Linked DNA regions of Homo sapiens: region 2 is linked to region 1. The links come from fine-mapping of genetic effects on plasma protein levels. Region 1 holds a variant in brackets. A gene starts in the other region. All regions are shown on their reverse strands.

What was found. A credible set is the group of variants that fine-mapping cannot tell apart. PIP is the posterior inclusion probability: the model's chance that the variant is causal. Protein levels are from antibody-based Olink assays in UK Biobank. Linkage for the fine-mapping came from a reference panel and not from the study's own genotypes, which makes the PIPs less certain.
Region 2: it holds the start of CTSV, and the variant in region 1 is the best candidate, but not a certain one, in a credible set for the plasma level of the CTSV protein (UK Biobank, PIP 0.55).

The regions. Positions count from the first base shown.
Region 1 is chr16:79,786,078-79,788,997 of GRCh38, reverse strand. The region is part of intron 1 of LINC01229 (long intergenic non-protein coding RNA 1229); the gene reads right to left. Among named protein-coding and RNA genes, the nearest start is that of MAFTRR, 17 kb to the right of the region's middle. The variant C/T (reference allele first, on the strand shown) is at 1,723.
Region 2 is chr9:97,037,621-97,040,499 of GRCh38, reverse strand. It overlaps CTSV (cathepsin V), which reads left to right and starts at 1,358. Exons shown (of 8, transcript NM_001333.4): 1 at 1,358-1,429; 2 at 2,447-2,582. The coding sequence starts at 2,457. RefSeq lists a silencer at 1,014-1,323.

The DNA of each region.
Region 1 (2,920 bases):
ACCAAAGAGAAACTGCACCCCAGTCCGGGGACCTATGAGTAGTGGGTTTAAGGAATGAAGAACCGTTTTGCTCACATGAGAAATATGTGGGTCTCTTCAAAGGCAAAATGGTTTTACAGGAGGATAGCGTTCTTTGAAATCTTAACATTTACTTAGCAAACAAGGTTTACTCCTCATTGCATGTTGCAGTTCAGATTTTTTCCTGGGTTTAAGACTTAAACCAATTAGTGTGAACACATAAATCTCCATATTTTTCAACACATGTTTATTCAGTGTCTATTTTGTGTTAGTTTATTGAGTATCAATTTTATGTCAGGCACTATGTTCGACTTTTACATACTCTTTGAACATTAGTACATTCTCACTTAATCCTAATGGCACCAAGAGTTAACCCTATTTCATAGATAAGAAAACTAAGATTCAGAGAAGTTAAGGGACTCATCCATGATTAACTAGCCTGTAAGTGACAGAGCACAGACCTTGAATACAGGTCTCTTGACCCTAACCCTTACCTTTTTACCCACTTTTTATCTTTACAAAGGATTAAAAGACAAATAATGTTCTCTATTTTCTAGATGATGAAAGAAGAGAACTATAGCCTGATTTTTTATTGACTCAGAGAGACAGAAAACCCTCTCAGAATATCCTGCTCTTCTGAACTCTATCAGCTTAGAGATTCATCCTGAAGTATTCCTATTGCCAAACACATAACACACATACACAAACACACACACACAACTGAAGCTATAAAAACATCTTTACTCTTCAAAGGGGTCCCGGAAACAGCTTGAAATCAAAGATGCCAATCTTTTAACACTTTGTCCTAAGAAAATGTGGTGGGTAAAAATCATGGCAATGGGTTTCGGGTAGTGAAGTTAACAGGTGTCTCTTACTCTACATAGTAATTTCTTTGCTAGAAGTTGCATGTAAATTGATTCTTGCTTAATTCGATGTGATTTAAAATTCACTTGCAAAACTTTAATTGAAATTAGTTCTACAGCATCTTGGTTTATAAGATGAATAGTCCTTTTGTAATCTGTGCATTTACAAATTGTGATTCCTTTAAATTGTGTTATAGGAAACCTGTGACTATCTATCTGCTAGAGAGGTTGATCATTTATTTTTTCCTCTTCTTGGAAACAACTCTAACTTAAGATTGGTCAATCTCAAAACATTAAGAGATGTAAGTCTTCTAAGTCTCCATGAGGCACGTAATATAAACTCTTTTAAAAAATTCACTTGCAGTTAGGTGTAGACATTCCAAGTTCTTGGGTCTCAGTGTTCCCATCTAAAAAATTAGATTAAATATTCTTTTCATTAACTTATATTTCTGTCAAATGCTCTCACATCTCCCAGGCTCTCTAAGTCAGAGTTTCTGGATACAGAAGTATAGCATAGCCTAGAAACGATGAAGAGACTCCTTTTCACACACATGAAAAACGATAAATTCTAACTAGGAAAGAGAAATGATAATAAACAGATTACTGGAGCCGCCTGTTTGCAGAACTTTTATTATTCAGACAAGAATGTCAAGCTGCATAGAATTCACTCATCAGAGTCCTTACTGCAGACTTAAGCTGCATCCAGAGAGAGCCAAAGAGTCCACGAAAATAGCAGCCATTCAAAGATCATCTCCTTTCCTGACAAAAGCTCTCACCAAATCAGGTGCAACAACAATGTATGTCGACATAATAAAGGCCATATATGACAAGCCACACCTAG[C/T]ATCATGTTCAACAGTGCAAAGCTAGAAGCTTTTCCCCTCTAAGATCAGGACAAGACAAAGATGCCCACAGTCACCACTGGCATTCAGTGTAGTACTGGAGGTCGTAGCCAGAATAGTTACACAGGAGAAAGAAATAAAAGGCATTCAAATCAGAAAGAAAGAAGTACAGTTGTCTCTACCTGCAAAGGAGCAATAATTTGGGGGTGGTAGTGCTAATGGTGATGATGGTGATAAAACTGATGATGGCAATAGTGGTCATGGTGATGGTGATTTTGGTAGTAATAGTAGTCATGGCAATGATGATGTTGATGGTGGTGGTGGTAGTGATGATGATGGTGCTGGTAGTAGTGATAATGGTGGTGGTAATGATGATGGTGGTAGTGGTGGTGGTGATGGTGATGGTGGCTGTAATAGTTGTGGCAATGATGGTGGTGATGATGGTGGCTGTGATGGTGGGGATGGTGGTTATAATAGGTGTGACAATGGTGCCAGTGAGCATGACAGTGCTGGTGGTGGTGGTGATGGTGGTAGTAATGATGGTGATGGTGGTAGTGATGGTGGTGATGGTGATGGTAGTAGAAATAGTAGTTGTAGCAATGATGATAGTGAGCATGATGGTGGTTGTGGTAGTAACGGTGATGGTGATAGTGGTGGTGATGATGGTAGCAATAGTAATTGTGGCAATGATGCTAGTGATGTTAATAGTAGTGGTGGTGGTGGTGATGGTGATGGTGGTAGTAATAGTAGTTATGGCAGTGACGGTGGTGATGATAATGGTGGCGATGATAATGATGGTGATAGTTGTTATTGTGGTGGTGATGGCAGTGGTGATGGTAGTGGTGGAGGAAATGGCATGGAAACTGTTATTTTAATAGCCTTGGAACTAATACATACTCTCATTCACTGCCCTTGATTCAGCTTCCACTCTCCCAACACTCAACCTCTAACCAGCATCCTTCTCTTGGTGTCTCCATACAACAACCCACCTGATATAAGTCTATCTTGTCATCTCCCTTTCTCGTTATTCCTCTTTTCAAATCTAATTCTCCAAGCAGAGACCTGTCTCATCTGCTCCCACTGAGTCCAAATACTTTATTAGTGCCCCTGTATTTCTATTTCTGCCATGTGCACTATTTTTTCTTCTCCTTTTGATCTTTTGAAATGACTTCATTGATTCTACCATCTTTTATTTACTTT
Region 2 (2,879 bases), not on the chromosome of region 1:
CTGCATCACCTCAACCCTGATATTATATATTTTTATTTTTATTTTTATTTTTTGAGACAGAGTTTCGCTCTGTCACCAGTCTGGAGTGCAGTGGCACGATCTCAGCTCACTGCAACCTCCGCCTCTCGGGTTCAAGCAATTCTCCTGCCTCAGCCTCCTGAGTAGCTGGGACTACAGGCGCCCGCCACCACGCCCAGCTAATTTTTGCATTTTTAGTAGAGACAGGGTTTCACCATGTTGGCCAGGATGGTCTCGATATCATGACCTCGTGATCCGCCCGCCTCGGCCTCCCAAAGTGCTGGGATTACAGGTGTAAGCCACCGCGCCCGGCCGGTATTAAACATTTTTAAAGTAAATTTATTAAATCTCAAAAGAAGCACACTTTGAATACTGAGGAAGAGACGTTGTAACCCATAAGCAGAGAGTAGGTAAGTAAAAGCAATTTCCACCACTCTCAGACTGGGCGTAGTGGCTCACGCCTGTAATCCCACCACTTTTGGGAGGCTGAGAGGGGAGGATCGCTTGAGGCCAGGAATTCAAGAGCAGCCTAAGGAAACTTAGCCAAACTCCATTTCTACAAAAGAAAAATTTTTAAAGCAATTTATTTCACCATTCTCAACGCTTTTCTCTTTTTTATTAACCAAATATTTCTGTAACTCTTTTTTTTTTTTTTTTTTTTTTTTTTGGTATTGAAAGACATGGGAGAAGGAAGAATTCCTGAATGCAACAGACTGGGAAGGACGCACCACAAAACGCTCCGCGGTCTCTGGACACCCTATCAGCTAGTCCCGTCCCTCCTGGTGTCCGGTCTCGACCATCCATCCCGTGTTTTGGGAGTGCCTTTCCTTACCAGATTCTTCTAAAGCCCTGATGCACCCACCCTTAAGTGGAAGGTAATGCTTCTGCTGGGGGCTGTGCGTTCTTCCACTCCGTCCCACCTTTGCCGTGGACTAAACAGGAGCCACTGAACGAGAGTACCCTGGCTCCCGGCCCTGCAGATTTTCACCAAAAACTCTAGGACTAAGTTAAAGTAGGGACTGAAATACCACACAGAGCTCGCTGTAAACCACCCGCTCAGCGCAGTAAGTCGGGATAGTCAGTAGATCTGAGCCCTTGAGGGAGGCGCCTCCCCCTCCTCCGCGCAGCCCCCGGGCGCCCGGCCCAGCTTCCCGCAGCCAGGGTGTATTGAGGTAGGCGCGCCCAGACCTGAGACGGGTTGGGACTGGGCTGCGTCACGCGCGGGCTCTAAGCGCCCGGGGCCCCGCCCAGTGGCCGGCACAGCCAATCGCAGCGCGGGAAGGCGGTGGGGGCGGGGAAGGCCGCCTGGAAACTTAAATCCCGAGGCGGGCGAACCTGCACCAGACCGCGGACGTCTGTAATCTCAGAGGCTTGTTTGCTGAGGGTGCCTGCGCAGCTGCGACGGCTGCTGGTGAGCGCCCCCGACCAGACCGAGGGACAGGGCGAAGGGGGACTGGAGGAGGGAACCCCCCTTTAGGGACACTGAGAGGAGGCGGGCGCTTCTGGGAGTGAGAGCTTCTGCCCGGAGCTCTGCCAGCCTCGAGGTGGGGAACGGGGGAGGGCGGTTGGAGACCCCAGGGAGGCGCCGGCACCACTGGGAGGGCCCGGGCGGGGCAGGTCAGTCATCCTGTGGGCTGAAGCCGGACCGGACCGGGCGGCTTCATGCCCCCAGCCTGGCCGCGGAGCCCCCGCTCCCTGCACCGCCGCAAACATTCTCGGGGCGCGGCGGCGCGTGCAGAGGGCGAGAGCAGGCGGTGCGGCCCCGGTCCTGGCCCGCCCGGAGCTCCGGGAGCTGCCTGCCTCGGTCCGGGCCCTGGCCCTGGGGCCCCTGGCTTCCAGCGGCGCGGCCTTGTGACCCTGCCCCGGTTTAGGGGAGCGAGTAGCACAGACCCAAGTGTGGGACGGCGGGAATAGTGGGTGCTCTCCTTCCCAGTGTCTCCTGGAAAGGGATTCCCGAAAGGTTTTATTCCAAAAGGAGAGGTTGGAAGACATAGCTCATCTCCTGCTGTGTATCAGCCAAGAAGGTGTGAGGTGGTGTTCCTTGGGGATCCGCTTGCATCTACTTGGGATGGTACGTCTTCATTAGTGAGGTTTTGCCTGGATGACCTCAGTACAATTGGTGCAAAACCTGGACCAACTCTTTCCTAGTTTTCTAGTTGTTGCCTTAAGCTTCTCACCCGTCAGGTATCTTTCACACCCTTCTCATACCCTAAATTATCGCATATGCTGTTTCAACGCCTCCAACTCTGCAGGCTGCTTTTAATTTTGGTGGGCCCATCAAATACCTCCACTTGGCCTGTTTCAGCCTCTTCCACAGTCCTTGGGGAAATGCTAGGGAGAATAATTGAAATATTTCTATTCCACGGGGGCTGTAAGATGGCTTTTTAGGATTGGTCTAATCAGATACTCATTTCTTTTCTCTTTCTAGGTTTTGAAACATGAATCTTTCGCTCGTCCTGGCTGCCTTTTGCTTGGGAATAGCCTCCGCTGTTCCAAAATTTGACCAAAATTTGGATACAAAGTGGTACCAGTGGAAGGCAACACACAGAAGATTATATGGCGCGGTTGGTAACATCTGAAACTGTCCAGAGGGACTCTGGAGAGAATGGTCCTCGCTGTTGGGAGTTGATAGCCAGAGAGTAGCTTCTAGACACCAGACCTTACCAGGCAATAACCTAACAGCACCCATTATAGGTGCAATATGGGCATATATCTCCATTGTGTCTTGGCTTGGAGAACAGCTCCCAGAGAAGTATCAACCCATCCCTGGCCATGGTTTCTCTTCCATTTCTGCCCGCAAATCGGCTTGGTGAACATGGGTTGGGTAAGTAGACATAAAGTCCACCAGCTATATGTTTGCC